2 separate regions of the Homo sapiens genome follow, and region 1 is linked to region 2. Evidence: fine-mapped expression QTL. A gene starts in region 2. The other region holds a variant in brackets. All regions are shown on one strand. Distances are between the middles of the regions.

What was found. PIP is the estimated chance that this variant, and not a neighbour inherited with it, causes the effect.
Region 1: its variant is fine-mapped to the expression of NECAB2 in whole blood (TOPMed, PIP above 0.99).

What each region holds. Positions count from the first base shown.
Region 1 is chr16:83,993,453-84,002,746 of GRCh38, forward strand. NECAB2 (N-terminal EF-hand calcium binding protein 2) reads left to right here. Exons shown (of 13, transcript NM_019065.3): 7 at 850-968; 8 at 1,157-1,236; 9 at 3,764-3,817; 10 at 4,753-4,865; 11 at 7,272-7,349; 12 at 8,373-8,464; 13 at 8,866-9,294. The coding sequence ends at 8,894. Among named protein-coding and RNA genes, the nearest start is that of NECAB2, 30 kb to the left of the region's middle. RefSeq lists a silencer at 2,534-2,593 and an enhancer at 8,872-9,294. The variant A/G (reference allele first, on the strand shown) is at 4,398.
Region 2 is chr16:83,962,615-83,971,665 of GRCh38, forward strand. NECAB2 (N-terminal EF-hand calcium binding protein 2) reads left to right here and starts at 5,630. Exons shown (of 13, transcript NM_019065.3): 1 at 5,630-6,235. The coding sequence starts at 6,035. OSGIN1 (oxidative stress induced growth inhibitor 1) reads left to right here. Exons shown (of 6, transcript NM_182981.3): 6 at 2,448-3,718. The coding sequence ends at 3,393. RefSeq lists a silencer at 5,506-5,695.

The DNA.
Region 1 (9,294 bases), 31 kb after region 2:
GCGGGTGTTGGGGCCGTGCACAGGGCACTCTGTGTGTCTTCTGGGGGAGTGTCTGTGTTTCTGTATGTCTGCCAGGAGCTTTTCAGCATCCTTTTGCATGGGAGGATTTGGTCATTCATTGAGCATTTTTGAGTCCCTACTATGTGCTGGACACAGTGCAAGGTGAGCTGTGTGTGTGTGTGTGTGTGTGTGTGTGTGTGTGTGTGTGTGTGTGTGTCTGCCTCTGCCTGTGGCTAGCTGTGCCTGTCAGGGCACGCAGGGGTGTGTATGCACATGAGTATGCACAGGAGAGGGGTGTCCAGGGCCGGGAGATGGGGCCAGGCCCAGGTCAGGATCACAGTTTCTGTCCTGTTACATCCCGACTGTCAGTGTCTCTTTAGGTCTCGCTTTTATGTGTATGTGTTGGAGGGGGGTCTTGAAACCAGGTCCCCCACCCCAGAGGGCACCAAACATTAAATGGGCCTATCATGAGGGAGGGAGGGGGACTTGGTCACTCCACAGCTTGGGCTCTACACGTGCCCGAAAGCTTCGAGCTGTTAGAGTGGGGGTGGGTCCCTGGCTCAGCCTCACTCTGGAACTGAATCTCTTGGGGAAAAGGCCTAGGCCGTGGGGTCCTAGAATGGAGCTGAATTCGAATCCCAGCTCTGCCCAGCTAGCTGCGTGGCCCTGGCTGAGTCACCTGCTTTAAGAACCTCATTTCCTCCTCTGTCAAAACAAAGGCCATGATGCAAGTTCTGTGCATGTGTGAGTCCACTGTCTTGCGTAATAAATGCCTGTGGAAGATGCTGGAAGTGGTAAGGGCCCTGAAGCCACCGCCATGGTCTGTGTGTGTTCCCATCCAAACTGCAGACAGAACCACATCAAACCCAGCCACAGCGCGGCACAGACCTGGTGTGGAAGCCCCACTCCCGCCTCTGCCCCCAACCACAAGCTCATGGCTATGGAACAAGGCAAGACCCTTCCATCTGGTGAGAGAAAGCGGGGGCCCTGGTGGGGGTACCAGCTGGGGGTCCCGAGGAGTTCTGAGAGTCCTCTGACAGGGACTGGGGAGATGAGCAAGTTTGATGCCCCTGGAGGGGCTGGATGTTTCCAGCTTCCCCCCGAAGCCCTCGTCCTGCCCACCACTGAAGTCTGTGTGTCTCTTTCTCTACCGCAGCCACGGAGGATGCAAAGGAAGAGGGTCTGGAAGCCCAGATCAGCCGCTTGGCAGAGCTGATTGGGAGGCTGGAGAGCAAAGTAAGCCCTGGCCTGACCACGGCGTCTACTCCTTCCAACCCCTGAGGGAGTGCAGAGTTAAGCCTGGAGTTCAGGACAAAAGTCTGGGCTGCAGAGGGGCCAGGGAACCATGAAAAAGACATCCCCCAGGTGGGGCGTGGAGCTGCCGAGGACGAAGCTAAGGATCAAACCCCGGGGGATGCTCGTGTTGTTCAGGCCCAAGGAGGGGCGCCTGGGAAGAGAGAGTGTTGGGGGGTCAGGCGGGCCTGCAGGCAGCAGGAGCAGCTCCAGGAGCAGAGGGTGGTCAGCAGGGTCCCGTGTTGCAAGGCCCTAGCTTCAAGGAGACTTTGCTCTGAAGTGGCTGGAGCAGATATTGGCCGAAAGGCAGCACCAGGATGAAAGAGAGACGTGATGATTCGAGAGAGTTTCAAAACAAGGAAGGAAGTGACCAGCAGTAGCAAATGTATTAAGTGTGATATGGGACGTCCACAGGTGATAGAAAATGGCACAGCCCTTACAGAAAACATTTTCAGATAATGTTTCGTGACTCGGGATAGAGTGCTCACAATATGACCATTTGGTGGAAAGAAAAGTTTGTCTTAGGGCCTACAGACAGATGGGCTCAGGTATCAGTCAGAATTCTGGTTGTGCCACTTCATAGCTGTGTGACCCTGGGCCAGGGACTTGTCCTCTCTGAGGCTTAGATTCCTCCTCTGATAATCAAGAAAATAACCTGGAGCATGGGACCCCTCCCTCATAGGGGTGTCGTTAGGATGAACCAAAATGATGTCTCCGGTTTAGCACAGGGCCCGGTGCTGTAGCTTGCATTTAATATTAGCAATGTTAGCAATTATTATGAGGCATTCTGTTACCCAAACCTATCCACATGCACACAGCACACCCGTATACCCACATAAGCCAAGGTAACTGAGCTCTCAGAACCCTGGGATTGAGGTGGTTTTATGTTTCTCCTACTTTTGTGTATTTTTTTTACACCCTTTGTAAAGGGTATTGCTACTTTTAGTTTGGGGGTTCTCAGGCATTCATGGGGGCAGGAACAAGGGGCTCCCCGCATGGAGGGAGACAGAGGCTGACGTGGAATGAAGTCCGAGGGAGGAAGCTCAAACTTCCCCTCCTGCAGGGATGAGGCTGAGGTGGAGTTACCCCCTTCCTGAAGCCAGCTGCGGGAGCGGCTCGGAGGGGACCCCGTGGCCCGGTTGTCATAACAACTCAGCGGGCGCCTCGGGAGGGAGACTCTGAAGCTTATTTTTAGAGCACCGTCGCCCTAACAACCAGGCTGGCTGGTAACCACGGAGTACCTGGGCGTCCTGGAGACGGGGTGGGACCAGGTCCTCCTCCCCAGCCTCTAACTGGCCCGGGCGGTCAGCAGGGGCCAATCCGGGCCTGGCTTCAGGCCCCGCCCTTCACCGGCCAACCGGAGCTGCCTCTGGGCTGGAAGGATGGAGGCTCTAGGGGCCCCTGGCTGGGAGAAGAATGGGGCAGATACAGGGGCCACAGTGCCTCTCCTCATCCTCCTATGGCTTTTCCAGCCCCAGGACCCCTCACGTATGCTTGTAAAACCATGGAAACAGACTTGTTCCTGCCAGGCACACCTTCACCACTTACCAAGGCGTGTTCATGCTGTGTGCCCCCAGAAGGCAGTACCCTTGCCAGGATCAGCTACTACAGAGCCCAGTGCAAAATGAGCGTGCAAGGTCCCTTGCTCAAACATTTAGAACGTCACGGTGGTGACTACACAGACTCATCCACCTGCTGCTGTTTTCCTTATTAGCTGGCGTGCTTTACCTGTGGCTGCCCTGTGTGACTCCCGTAGATGGTCTGTCCTCATGGAGGATGGACAGAGATAGCCACAGAGGTGGTTAGTGGGGTGCCCAAGCTGAAGGAAGCAGCAGCATGAGCCTGTGCGTCAGGTAGACACACTGGGTTCAGACCCACGCTCTGACACTTACATGGCTTTCGTGCCTTCAGAGCCGGGGTTCTCTGCCGTGACATAGTGACTGTTGATCTTCTGTGGGGGCTCAGCCCTGTGTGGGCACCAGTCGTGGGCGAACAGAGCAGATGTGGTTCCTGGAGACCGAAACTTACAGTGGGGCAGCACCTTCCCTGGGGAGTCTGGAAGATTGTGTATTTGTAAACCATCTAGCTTAGAGTCTGGGGAAGACCAGAGAGAACAGTTCACCCCATTAGATCCCTGAGGTGCTGGGGGTTATGATTTGGGGTGAATTATAAGTTACAGGGAATCTAAGGGCTGTTGCTCATCATAGTGGCAAACCCCAGCATCTTGGACTCAGGCCTCTGGAGTCCCCCTTGCTGCCTCTCCCAAGCCATCCTCACCCCAGCAACATGTTCTAGGCCCCCTGTAGGCCAGAGGGAGTCTCTGCCACTTCCTAGCGTTGGTCTCCCAGCCCTGTGCAACAGGGCCGGGTCCTTGGGAGCTCCCAACAGCCCCAGGGATCCCAGAGCTCCTGGCTCCCCGGGGCGGAGTGGGGCTCTGGGTCTAGCATCACTGTGTGCTGGATTGTTTCAGGCACTGTGGTTCGACCTGCAGCAGCGCCTGTCAGATGAAGATGGCACCAACATGGTGAGGCCCCTTCCCACCTCTCTTCTGGGACCACATCCCTACCCATGCCAGGACTGCCAAGATCCAAGTGGCTCAATGCCCCTGACCCCGCTCTCCCTGCTTGGGACCACCAGGAGGGGAGATGTCGCCCAGCGCTTGGCACCCAGACCCTGCCCTGGCACAGGAGCCACCCCACCAACTCCGGGGGTATTTCTTGAGGCTCCCTGGACCTTTTTTTTTTTTTTTTTTTTTTTTTTGAGATGGAGTCTTGCTGTATCTCCCAGGCTGGAGTGCAGTGGTGGGATGTCGGCTTACTGCAACCTCTGCCTCCTGGGTTCAAGCAATTCTCCTGCCTCAGCCTCCTGAGTAGCTGGGATTACAGGTGTGTGCCACCACGCCTGGCTAATTTTTTTGGTATTTTTAGTAGAGACGGACAGGGTTTCACCATGTTGGTCAGGCTGGTCTCAAACTCCTATCCTCATGATCTGCCCACCTTGGCCTCCTAAAGTGCTGAGATTACAGGCGTGAGCCACCACACCTGGCCCAGAGGCTCCTGGACTTTGATCCAAAAAAGGTTTGGCATAGAGCAAAGTGATCAGCC[A/G]GACAGTGATGTGAAAATGCTGAGTCCATCAACTATGAGTTTTTCTTGTCAGTGGATGTGCTGTGTCTCCAGGCCCTGGAGGCTGTGCAGGTGGTTGTGGACATGGATGGGGCCTCTGTAAACAACCTCGTCTGTTTTCCCCATTTTTGGGGGCTACTTCTGCACTGGGCTCTTGAGGTTCTAGTCCTTTCTTAGCCCATTTTTAGTCCATTCTTATCCATTCATGGGTAAGAATGAAAAGTGGGGGAGGGTTATTTTATTTTGACCGAGGAAGGGAGGTCATGGGGGCCTGATGGGGTGTTTAGGGAGAAGGCCTGACGTGGAGCCCCACACTGACTCCTGCTGTGCCCGGCAGCACCTGCAGCTGGTCCGGCAGGAGATGGCCGTGTGCCCCGAGCAACTGAGCGAGTTTCTGGACTCTCTGCGCCAGTATCTGCGGGGGACCACTGGCGTGAGGAACTGCTTCCAGTGAGTGAGCTGCCGAGGCGTGGGTGGGATGGTGGCAGGGAGCTCTGCCTGGCAGTGGAGGAACAGGGCAGGACTAGGCTTTGCCCTAAGTAGTACAAGTTGCACCCCAGGGACACACACAGCTGGATGCGTAAGAAGTGGGTTCAGGTCTCTACTGAGGTTCCTCCCAGCCAAGCAAATGTGGCAGGTGTCTTCATCTCCCTGGCATCAGCTTACTCATCTGTAAAGGGGGGACCACCCCCAGGACTCCTTGCTGGGGTGATCATGAGTGCATATACAATCAAGTGTGTGAATCTCAAGTGTGAAGGGCTCCAGCTGGGCCTGGTGTGCCCCGTGCGCTCAGTCAGCCTCAGCTGCTGCTGTCACAGGGGTTCCTGCACACTTAAGTCCAGGCCCAGAATGTAGTATTTGCTCAGTTAACCACTGAGGAAGGAGAGGAGAGTCGGTAGCTGAAGGGAAATGCCCAAGTCATGTAGTTGCCCTTCTCCCCCTGATGTGCTGAGATGTCCAGGGCGGGGCAAGCGGCCTTACCTTCAAATTCCTGTTCATCCCACCAGGCTGATGTAGCTCCTTGGTAAAGCTAAGGCATGTGGCCAGGGCCAGAGTGGAGGGGGTTGCAGAAGACAACAGCCCTTTGTTCTTGCTGGTAGTGGTCCCCCGCCCCCCGTTTCTGCAGCAAGGCTCTGCCCAACTCCCTTCCCAGGGCTTTCTTCCATCCCCAGAGCACACACTCATTCACCCCATTGCCTGGGGACATGGCTGTGAACCAGGCAGGCCAGGTCCTAGCACAGGGTCTTTGAGAGGGGTCTTCTTGGGCCCCCTGTGCACTGAGGCTTGAGTGACAACAGCCTGACCTGTAGCACGAGGGGAGGAGTAGCCTGGGCAGGAGTGCGGCCGTTCCCGAGACTCGGCGTGGCCACGAGGGGCCATTCTTGAGTAAGTAGCCAGGATGGGGGGGCAGGACCCACTCCACTCCAGGAGGACAGACTGCACAGGAGCAGGGGCCAGACTTGATCTTTTTCCATTACGTGAATAAGTGGGAGGCTCCAGGGTGAAGTAGGGCCACCCCGATGCGCTGTGGAGAGGAGGCACGGTGGACGTAGAGGCTCTGGTTTGTCGAGTTGGAGACGGCAAGCCTGGAGAGCCAGGTGAGATTCTACTTCCCAGGCATGGTGCACCTAAAGCTGCACGGAGGTGTGTCCACCCCAAGATGGAATCCAGCCCGGCCCCTTCCTCTAGGCTGAGCACTGTAGCCCCTCCTCCCCAGCTTTTGGCCCCCGCTTTATGGTCACTTGGGGCTTCCTCATTGTAGTGCACTTGCAGAGAGGATTCTGGGGCGGCATAGACTATCAGCACCTTTAAAATGACGTGAGTGCGGGCCCCTGGGTCCCATAGAGCAATGGGGGACTTGCCTGCAGCCCCTTCCTCTGTGGCCCAGCACCCCCTCCCCTCAGCCTCCTTTGGTCAGGTCAGGTACAGTGCAGTGGGGGTGTTGCAAGGATTAAATGAGAGGACAAGTAGAAGGAAGAAGAGGGAAGATGCTTTGATTTTTAAAGGTTTTTTGATTTTTAAAGGTTTTTTGAGACCAAATCTTGCTTTATTGTCCAGGCAGGAGTGAGTGTGTAGTAGTGGAAGCTCAGCTCACTGCAACCTCTCACCAGAGGGTTTAAATGAGTCTCATGCCTCAGTGTCCTGCATCGCTGGGATTACAGGGATGTGCCACCAGGCCCAGCAAGTTTTATTTTTTTTTTTTTTAAAGAGACAGTGTTTTGCCATGTTGGCTAGGCTGGTCTTGAACTCCTGACCTCACGTAATCCACCTGCCTCGACCCCTCAAGACTTCCCAAAGTTCTGCGATTACAGGCGTGAACCATCACATCCAGCCACCTGGTTTTGTTTAAATAAATGTTCACACTTTAACATGACATTTCAGCTGGGCACAGTGGCTGAAGTTTGCAATCCTGGCACTTTGGGAAGCCAAGGTGAGAAGACAGCCTGAGCCCAGGAGTTAAAGACCAGCATGGGGAACATAGCAAGACCCCATCTCTATTGGGACAGTTTTTGAATTAGGCCGAGTGGTGCACTCCTCTAGTCCCCGCTACTTGGAAGGCTGAAGTGATTGTGCCACTGCACTCCAGCCTGGGCAACAGAGTGAGACCCTATCTCAAAAGAAAAACTACACTGCATTGATTCTATTTAATAAATAGCTGTTGGCCACTATAAGAAGCCAGGCCTTATTCCCTGTGCTGGGGTCACCCTGTCGAGTCTCGATGGAGGTCAAGACAGGAAGAAACATTGAAGGCAGCCGTTGTGTATAGTGGTGGGTCTCAGGCCACCCCAGGGGAACAGCACTGAGGTGGCCTTGGTTGAGCTCCAGCCTCCTCCCCCCGACCATCTCCTGTTGCAGCATCACTGCCGTGAGGCTCTCAGATGGCTTCACCTTTGTCATCTATGAGTTCTGGGAGACAGAGGAGGCGTGGAAGAGGTGAGATGCTGGGTCCCCACAGCAGGTGAGGGAGACAGAGGGAAGTGGGGGGGCTGTCTTCCTGGAGCCAGGCATCCTTGGAGGGGAGGGTAAGGCCGAGTCCAGTCAGCAGATTCCCGAGGCATCTACCCGCTGGCATGCTTGCGTCAGTAAACCCTGGTGGAGGCAGGAGCTCTTGGTGGGTAGTGAGAGCCCCCACCACACTCAGCTGGGCTTTCCTGCTTTCCCCAGGGTTGCTTCTGTGCCCCTAGAGCACCTTGTCCTCCTGGAACAGCCCTGGGGGCCGAGGCACTGCCTTCTTTACCACCCTGTAGAGTTGAGGGCCTAACCTAGAAGGTGACTCAGTCCCCATGTGATCAATTGTTCCAGCGACTAACCTCCCCTCCAGCTGAGTGCCCGGTACGAGGGACGGAGATGGGGTAGGGTGTCAGCAGCTCTGATGGGCCTTAGGCCTTTGTCCTCTGCTCAGCACACATCTGGGAGAGGGTGGAGACTATTGCTGATGCGCCAGACCCCACAGGCAGGAAGCGGGGCCTAGGGGTAGCCCATGCCCCCATCTCCTGCTTCCCTGGTAAACACTCACGGTTTGCTGACAAACTCAGGACCCCAGTGGGAACAGGGGCGGTCATGAGAAGTGAGAGTGTCCCCTCCCTGTCCGTACTTCAGTGACTCATAAAACGAGGGACTAAAAGCCTTCGCAGCTTCTGTGTTGTCATGGGTCCCAGGCAGAGGATGGCCCCACTCCTCCTGCTAGGGTAAAGGGGGAGGTAGAGGCTCTGTGCAATGAGTGGGGGGATCCCGCTGCCCATTTATAGCTCACAGGGAAAAAGAGAAGCTCACTGCCCACCCCAGAGTCAGCCTCCCTGGGCACCCCCTCACCTTCCCACAAAGGCTCTGAGTCCAAAGACCCCCCGTGCTTATTGATAAGCTCCCCATTTTGGGCTAGAGCTAGGATTAACAGGGGAGCCACACGCGGAGCTCCACTCCTGCCACCCCTGACTCACACATGTCCCTGCGTCACAGGCACCTGCAGAGCCCCCTGTGTAAGGCGTTCCGGCACGTCAAGGTGGACACACTGAGCCAGCCTGAGGCCCTCTCCAGGATCTTGGTGCCAGGTAGGGGGCAAAGGCCTGGAACTGCAGTGGCCACCTGACTGGAGAGAAGGGCAAGAGCCTAGAGGCTGCCCCATATCTCCCGGGGACTTGCCTGCTTGCTGTGGGCCCACTGTCAGCTCCTGCCACCAATGCCAGGCTCAGAGCCAGCCCTGAGGTGGCCCCACATACAGGTATGCCTGCCAGAGCTTGCACCAGAGCACCCCCTCCACGGCCCCCTACTTCCAGCCAGACTGAATTTCCCTTCCCAGGTGTGTGGTTTGCACCTGGGTGACCAGCAAGGACCTGTGTGTCACACAAGGACTCAAAGCCATCCCCCGACCTGTCATTCAAGACGACCACCACCAGCTACGAGGCTGCCCACATTCGCACTCCTTCCCTCTAACGTGTCTCTCTCCTTTTAGCTGCTTGGTGCACGGTGGGACGGGACTGACAGCCTCCCAGAGGCCCGTGGAGGAGCCCACCAGCCCCTTCTTCTTGTGAAGGAAATCCCGTTTTTTTCTAGACAGACACTTTGGTGCAGAAGCTTCTTTTCAATCCATCCTCCACAAGAAGGTGTTTCCCTGTTGTTAAGTGAAGGAGGCCGCCCCTGCCCCCACCTGAGAAGGCAGAGCAGTGTCTGTGCTGCCAGGTCCTGGTGAAGCCCAAGGTTGAAGGGGGCGGCTTCCTGGAGCCAGCACCCCTGCCTCCTGGTCCTGGCCTCTCCCCTACCCCTCACATGGCCACGCATGACCCACACTGACCACACCCTGCCCTCTTCGGTGACATTCTTCTACCTAGTAGGAGTCATGCCCCTGTAGTGCCCAACCTAGCCAGGTAGCCACCACTGTGCC
Region 2 (9,051 bases):
ACACATGGTGGTCGGGGCACAGCCTGGCTGTATACGTTAGGGAGACTTGAGACATCAATCACTATATGTAAGATGGACATTGGTTCCGTCCAGAGGCGGGACAACTCCAGCAGGGAGGGGTGTTTCCAGGTCTCAGACAGGTGAGAGACAAACGGTTGCATTCTTTCGAGTTTCTTATAAGCCTTTCCAAAGGAGGCAATCAGGTGTGCATTTATCTCAGTGGGCAGAGGGAAGACTTTGAGTAGGACGGGAGGCAGCTTTGCCCTAGGCAGTTCCCTGCTTGACTTTTCCTTTAACTTAGTGATTTGGGGGCCCCAAGATTGATTTGCCTCTCACAGTTTCAATCACTGAATAAAGGAGTTCTAGTCCCTGCTCCTCCTGGGGTGCATCCACTCAATGAGAAGCTGCCCCAGCGCAGATACCTGGGTGCAGTCTGCCTCTCGGGAAGCCCTGCTTCCTCCGCCCCCAGGGCTGTGACCAGGCCTGTGTCCCCAACGGCAGGCACTCCAGGCGTCCCCCTCCAGGCCTCACTATCTCTTTGATGCGAAGACTCTTCTGCATGTTTGGCAGGAAGACTTCCAGGTTTGTGTAGCTACATGTTAGTAGGCAGCCAGAAACTTACATTTCGCTTGTAAGCACAGCCTTTTATAGGCTCATTTTGCATTTTCACATTGTATCCCAAGCGTTTCATGTGGTGAAGTCACAGCGTTCAAAACCATCCTTTTACATGGCCTCACAATATTCCCAAAGGCGAGTGAGCATCCCCAGTCCAGCAAATCTTCACCGAATGCTTATTATGTGCCAGGCCTTGGGCTTAGACGTCAGAGCACAAAACCACCGCAGACACACCCCCTGCCTCATGGCACTGCCAAGGTTACCCAGCCCCTGCCAGCCCTGGAGCATTCATTCTTTCCATTGTGTCATTATTATAAATAACTCTGCACAGAACATGCTCTTGGGACCGTTCTGTGTCACAATCTTTACAAAAACTGAGAAAAGAATGACTGCCCACAGAGATAAATTCCAGGGTCGCAGACGGGCTGCGCTGGGTTGACTGGCACGGCCTTGGGGGTCCATTGTCAGCTCCTGCTACATGTAGCCGGACGGCAGGTGGCACAGGATTCTCCCGTATGGGAGTTCATCTTGAACCATGAGCCCACAAGCTGGGTAGATTAACTCATCTAAGGTCACACAGTGAGATACAGGAAGGTGCTAGAATGATGCAAAGCCTGTCATTCAACCGCCACAAGAATGGGCCTGCAGTCACTGCCCCTGGAAAGAGTGACAATCCAAACAACAACAACAATAATAGAATACCTCCTGCTGCTGCGTGGGCTGGGAACGATGGTGAGTGCGTCACATGGGAGTCTTTAAATCAACTTTAAATCAACTTTTTGACTACATATAGGCTGGGTGCGGTGGCGCAAGCCTGTAATCCCAGCACTTTGGGAGGCCGAGGCTGGTGGATCACTTGAGGTCAAGAGTTCGAAACCATCCTGGCCAACATGGCAAAACCCCATCTCTAATAAAAATACAAAAATTAGCCAGGTATGGCGCTGCATGCCTGTAGTTCCAGCTGCTCAGGAGGCCGAGGTATGAGAATCACCTGAGCCCGGGAGGCAGGGGCTGCAGCGAGCTGAGATCACACCACGGCACTCCAGCCTGGGCAGCAGAGTGAGACTCTGTCTCAAAAAATTAAAATAAAATAAAATAAAATAAAATAAAATAATAAATTGGCTACATATAGAAAAGTACGTAACTCCTGTGAGTACAGGTTGATGAAATTTCTCAAGGTAAGCACAGAGAATGAAGAAGCAGGCCCCCTCCCAGAAGCCCCCATGCCCTTTCTGATCAGGATCCCATTCCCCATCCCCGGAGGTAACCCCTCTCTTGACATCCAGCTCCATAGATGAGTTCTGCCTGTTTCTGAACTCTGTAAAAATGGAATCATACCATATTTAATCATTTGAGGTGACAATCATGGTGGCCTATCCTTACATGGCACTTACTTCCAGTCAGGTTCCATCCTAAGCACTTTGTGTTTGTCAGCTCACCAAATCCTCCCCACGACCTCACGAAATAGGTCCTGCCACCAACATCTTCCTCATTTTGCAAACTGGGGAAACAGACACAGCTCCCTGATGGCAGAGTCAGGATTCGAGCCCAGGCAGCGGGGCTCTGGAGGCTGCCCTCTGAACCCCACCCTACACCACCCTAGAGCATCCTACACCACCCTACACCACCTCTCCTGAGGGAGGCACCCTTGTTAGCTCCATTTTACAGAAGAGGAGACTGAGGCTTAGAGAGGTTGAATTACCTGGCCTAGTCCTACAGCTACAGCCTAGTCCAGCTCCAGGGCCTGACACTGCCCTGGACATCTCCCGTCCCACCCAGCCCCCCAACCCCTAACAGTGTCTGACTCTGGCGTCCTGCATCCTCCCCAACAGAGGTCTTCGCAACAGCCGGGCCACTGCCGGGGACATCGCCCACTACTACAGGGACTACGTGGTCAAGAAGGGTCTGGGGCATAACTTTGTGTCCGGTGCTGTAGTCACAGCCGTGGAGTGGGGGACCCCCGATCCCAGCAGCTGTGGGGCCCAGGACTCCAGCCCCCTCTTCCAGGTGAGCGGCTTCCTGACCAGGAACCAGGCCCAGCAGCCCTTCTCGCTGTGGGCCCGCAACGTGGTCCTCGCCACAGGCACGTTCGACAGCCCGGCCCGGCTGGGCATCCCCGGGGAGGCCCTGCCCTTCATCCACCATGAGCTGTCTGCCCTGGAGGCCGCCACAAGGGTGGGTGCGGTGACCCCGGCCTCAGACCCTGTCCTCATCATTGGCGCGGGGCTGTCAGCGGCCGACGCGGTCCTCTACGCCCGCCACTACAACATCCCGGTGATCCATGCCTTCCGCCGGGCCGTGGACGACCCTGGCCTGGTGTTCAACCAGCTGCCCAAGATGCTGTACCCCGAGTACCACAAGGTGCACCAGATGATGCGGGAGCAGTCCATCCTGTCGCCCAGCCCCTATGAGGGTTACCGCAGCCTCCCCAGGCACCAGCTGCTGTGCTTCAAGGAAGACTGCCAGGCCGTGTTCCAGGACCTCGAGGGTGTCGAGAAGGTGTTTGGGGTCTCCCTGGTGCTGGTCCTCATCGGCTCCCACCCCGACCTCTCCTTCCTGCCTGGGGCAGGGGCTGACTTTGCAGTGGATCCTGACCAGCCGCTGAGCGCCAAGAGGAACCCCATTGACGTGGACCCCTTCACCTACCAGAGCACCCGCCAGGAGGGCCTGTACGCCATGGGGCCGCTGGCCGGGGACAACTTCGTGAGGTTTGTGCAGGGGGGCGCCTTGGCTGTGGCCAGCTCCCTGCTAAGGAAGGAGACCAGGAAGCCACCCTAACACTCGGCCAGACCCGCTGGCTCCCAGGCCCTGAGAGGACAGAGATGACCACATCCCTGCTGGATGCAGGACCCGTCCAAAGATGCCCCGGGGAGGGGTGTCAGCCCACGTTGCTGGCCTTTGGGGTCAAGAGGAGTAGGGATCCCAGGCTGCCCTGGACTTAGACCAGTGTCTGAGGTGGTAACAGCGGCCGCAGGCCAGGGTTGGCCTAGACCTGGGATTTGTGGGGAAAGCTGCTGGTGTGACCAGCTGAGCACCCAGCCAGGAGACCTGCAGCCCTGCGCCTTCCAGAAGCAGGTCCCAAATAAAGCCAGTGCCCACCTGCTCTCATGCGTCTGAGGACTCTGTGCTCGGAGGGAGCTGCGTTCCCGGAACCCTGCACTGGGCTGGGGGGAAGGGAGGAAAGGGGATTGTGGGAGGAGTCCTGGGGCATGTGGTCCTGGATGAGGTCCATGGCTGGGGCCTTGGGGTACAAAGGATGGTGCCCCAAGTGTGGGGGCAGTTGAGCGGGCAGCTGTACTAGAGTCTGGGGGTGGGAGTGGCGGGTGTGTGCAGGCAGTGATGTCCAGGAGGGCGCTGCAGCCCCGCCCCCTCCGCAGCCTGTCCCAGGCCTCCCTCCTCTCTGTTCTGCCATGCGGCCTCCTTTCAGTCCCTCCTGCTGGCCAGGTCTCTGCCTGCCCCAAGGCCTTTGCACAGAGAGTCCCCAGCCCAGGACAGTTTCCCGCCTTTCTTTAACTCCTTTTCCTTGGGATGTCTCAGCATAAGAATCACTTCCTCTAGGAAGCCTCTTCTGACACAAACCCCTCCACTGCCGTCACAGCAAATACTCCTTTCATGGTCTAAGGTGCTACCTTTTCATAGCAGTGCAGTTTTTTTTTCTTTTTTTTGAGACAGAGTCTCATTTTGTCACCCAGGCTGGAGTGCTGTGGCGCTTGGTTCACTACAACCTCTGCTTCTGGGTTGAAATGATTCTCCTGTCTCAGCCTCCCAAGTAGCTGGGATTACAGGTGACTGCCACCTCGCCCAGCTAGTTATTGTATTTTTAATAGAGACGGGGTTTCACCATGTTGGCCAGGCTGGTCTTGAACTCCTGACCTCAAGTGATCCGCCCTCTTTGGCTCCCCAAAGTGTTGGTATCACAGGCATGAGCCACCACACCCTTCCAGCAGTTCAGTTTTAATTGTTCATTTGTTTGTGGAATCATTTCAGTGTTTGGCTCTGCCCACTTGGATGTAAGCTCCAGGAGCTCTGGGAGACCAAGTACACCATCTGTTTTGCCCATTGCTGGAACTCCGTGGTTGGGCACCTGCCTGGCACCTAGTGGGTTCTCCTTAATTCATCTTTTAAATGGATGGGTGGATGGATGGATGGGAGGATGGGTGGGTGGGTGGACAGATGGATAGATGAGAGGATGGTTGGATGGATGGGAGGATGGTGGGTGGGTGGATGGATGGATGGATGGATGGGAGGGAGGGGGGTGGGTGGGTGGGTGGATGGATGGGAGGGAGGATGGATGGATGGATGGGAGGGAGGGAGGATAGATGGATGGATGGAAGGATGGTGGGTGGATGGATGGGAGGGTGTGTAGGTGGGTGGATGGATGGATGGATGAGAGGGTAGGGGGGTGGATAGATGGATAGATGGGAGGGTGGGTGGGTGGATGGACAGACAGATGGGCGGGCGGGCAGATGGATGGACGGATGGATGGATGGATGGATGGATGGATGGATGGATGGATGGGAGGGTGGATGGATGGATGGATGGAGGGTGGATGGATGGATGCCAGGGAGGGAGGATGAGTGGGTGGGTGAATGGATGGATGGATGGGAGGATGCTGGGTGGGTGGATGGATGGATGGATGAATGGTTGGGAGGGTGGGTGGATGGATGGACGGACAGTCGGCCGGCCGGATGGATGGATGGGAGGATGGGTGGATGGATGTATAGATGGATTGATGGACGGGTAGGCAGGTGGATGGATGGATGGATGGATGGACGGACAGGTGGGTGGGTGGATAGATGGATGGGTGGATGGAGTATGAAGGAAAGATGTTCTGGGGTGAAGACTGGTTCTGGGCGTTTTGTAACCAAGGGGGCGGCCTGAGGGGGCGTGCACGCCCGCGGGAGTTAAGGATGGGCGCCCGCGGGCGTGACGGGGCCGCGGGGCGTGGGCGCCGCTCCCCGGGGCTGGAGCCGGCAGAGGGCGCTCCGGGCTCGCTGGACACCCGCGCTTCGGCCTCTGCTGCGCGCCGCGAGTGGGAGGGGGGACTTTAGAAGCGGGGAGAGCAGGAGACTTTTGGGGAGCAGGCCCCAGGGGCGCCGCCCCGCCCCCAGGCCCCACATACCCCTCCCCTCCGGGTAGCCCCCTCTGTGGCTGCGCCCGCGCCCCTCGCCCCGGCGGGCAGTCCTCAGGCCCCGCGCCCGGCCGGCGGGGGTGGGGGCGGCGGGGAGCGGGCACGTGGCTCGGGGTCCGGCCGGCCCGCCCCCCGGCGCCGGCCAGTCCCCGCGGTGTCCGCGGCCGCGGGGGCAGCGGGAGAGAGGGCGGGGCGGCGCGGGCAGCGCGGGGAGGGGGTCGCGCGGGGGCGGGCCGCAGCTGGGCGGGGGTCGGCGGGCTTCCGGGCGGCGGCGGCGGGCGCGGCGCGATGTGCGAGCGGGCGGCGCGCCTGTGCAGGGCCGGCGCGCACAGGCTGCTCCGGGAGCCGCCGCAGCAGGGCCGGGCGCTGGGCGGGCTGCTGCGCTGGGTGGGCGCCAGGATGGGCGAGCCCCGGGAGTCGCTGGCCCCCGCCGCCCCCGCGGACCCCGGCCCAGCCTCGCCGCGCGGGGGCACCGCCGTCATCCTGGACGTGAGTACGCGCCGGCCGGGACCCCCGCCGTGGCCTCCGCTGGGACCCGGAGCCCCCTCCGCCCCTCGGGCGGACCCCGACGCCGCGACCCGCGAGGCCCTCCCTACCCGGGCAGGAGACCCCCGGCCCCTCCGCGTGCCGGAGCGGGAGCCCCCAGCCCCGCCACGTCCAGGCCGGTCTCCAGCCCAGTCCTCTCCCTGGACCGGGAGACCCCCCTCCTCCGCCCCTCCACCGGCGCTTCTCGGAGTCCCTGCCTGCCCACAGTGGGGAGCCGTGAGCCCCCGGACCCGGCCACTGTCCCCCTAGTTTTGTCCAAGCCAAACCCCCACCCTTTACCCCGCGGGACCGGAGCCCCTCGCCGCGTCCAGCCGCCTCCTCCTCTCCATCCCGGATCCTGTCCGGAGCGATACTTTTCTGAGACCCCTAACAACCCCTACCTCTAGCCCACCTCTCTTCGCCCTAGACCCTGAGCCCCCGTTCATCTCACGCTCAAAGACCCTTTGCCCCAGCTACTGCCACTTTAAAAGTGAAGCCCCCTCCCCACCTTCTGTCTTCTCGTCTCCTTTCCATTGAGCCAGAGCCATCGCCCATCAGCCCTGAGCTGGTACCCCTCTGGTCTTCCCCACCCCGCCCCCTTCCATTCCAAGTCCTCTGTTCCCTTCCCCACACCCCTCTACCCTACAGAGAGCTGGGTCCTCTTCATGGACCAGACTCACCCCTCACCCCTCCTAACTCCCCTGGGACCCAAATCACCCATCTCTGGGAAGCCCACCTCACCCTCCCACCCGCCCCACCCGGGAGGGAGGAATCTTCAGGGGGCGGCTCGGAGGAGGAGGACTTCTCCCAGCAGAGAGTGCTAGGAGGAGGTGGAGGAGGCTTCTGGGGATGTTGACTGCGTGTTTCAGCGAGGGTCCTGCTGGGGTGGGGCTGGGGGCTGCCTCTGCCTGTGTGGTGGATTTCTGGGAGAGTGGTGGGTGTGTGTGAATGTGCACACGCGTGTATCGCGGATCCCTGTGAGTCGGGGGATTCCCTCCCTTCCTCTCTCCTCTTCCCTGCTCCTGGAACCCTTGGCCGGGGTCTGGGCTGGGAGGGCCGGCCAGAGCAGGGGGAGCTCTAGAGTGCCACACTCGCAGGCACACATTCACACACTCACGCACTCGCTTACGCACGCACACACAGCCAGAGACACACCCATGCAGCCAAACCATCCCCTCCTCAGGACCCCCGCAGAGCTCCCACTGAAAGTCCTGGGCAGAGCCCTGCAGCCCCAAGCTGCCCTGCATGGAAGCCCTGCCCAGTCAGGGTGGGGGCTCTGAGGTTCCATCTCCTCACCTGCCAAAAGGAGTGATGAGCGGGGGGTGGGGCGGGAGGTGCTCATGCAGACTCCTGGAGCTGGCTGACATTACCAGGTGTCAGCCCTGCCATGTCACTCATGTGTTCAGCATTCCTGCCCAGAGCCGGCACCTACCTGGTGCCTGGCCTCAAGGGGGATCTGGGACACCCAGATAGGGACCCCAGTTTTGAGGAGCCTTGCCCAGTCAGGAACGGGGCTGCGGGGTGCCCAGGCTGGATCTTTGAGGAGGGCTTGGGGATCTGAGGTTCAGCCAGGAGGAGGGGTGATGTTTGAGAGGCCCTCCCATAGCTGTGCTTCAGTCTCACCGCCCAGGTGCCTAGAAATGACCAAGGGTGCCCCCTTTCTCGTTGCCTGGAGGGATGGGGGGCGAGGGCATCTGTCCTTTACCCCAAGGCGAGGACAGAGGGTGGAAGGGTCAGAGTGAGTATTACCTCCTCCTCCTCCATGGCTGACCTGGCCCCAGCAGCCCTCCCTGGTGTCGGGAAATGTGTACATGTTGCTGCCTCTCCCTGGGTCTCAGTACCCTCCTTGTTAAAACAAGCCACTGAGATTGGGGTGGGGGCCACCGCAGAAGCTGGGATCCTTCTCAGGCTTTAAAGTGCTGGTGGGCAGGGCGCCGTGGCTCACGCCTGTAATCCCAGCACTTTGGGAGGCCGAGGCGGGTGGATCACCTGAGGTCAGGGGTTCGAGACCAGCTTGACCAACAAGGTGAAACCTCGTCTCTACTAAAAAATACAAAAATTAGCCAGTTGTGATGGCGGGCGTCTGTAGTCCCAGCTACTCGGAAGGCTGATACAGGAGAATTGCTTGAACCCGGGAGGCAGAAGTTGCAGTGAGCCAAGATCGCGCCACTGCACTCCAGCCTGGGTGACAGAGCGAGACCCCATCTCAAAAAAAAAAAAAATAGTGCTGGTGAATCAGTCCCCGTGGGAACTGGTTACAGTGAAAGGTCTGACTCCACTACAGTGCAGAGTAGGTGGGACATCCTGCATTGCAAACAAGCTCCTGCAGGACCCAAACAGCTCCTGTGAATAGCAAGGTCTTAGCGCACAGGTGTCAACATTGGGCCTGGGAGGCTTTAAAAATGCTGAAATCAGAGTGGGCCTCACAGCAGCTGATTCAGTCACCCTGGGGTGTGGCCCGGGCTGAGGAGGTTTTGAAAGCTCTCCAGGCGATGGTGTTGGAAGGGGCGGAAAGCTGCCTTCGAGCCTCAGCCTGGCAAGCAGCACCTGCCAGCCAGACCTTGAGGAAAGGGGAGCAGCTCTGTCCCACGGATTCAGATGTCACTGGAAAGGCAGAACGAGGAGGCACCTGGTCTTGTAGGTTCAGGCCAGCCTTGGAGCTGCCCTCCACCCATCCCTGCCTAATGCAGCCGGAACTTCGTCTGCGGCTGCTTTTCTGAACTCTTGGCGTCCTGTTTCTCCTCCTGCACCCCAAAATTAACGCAGTCCTGCCCGTGGCT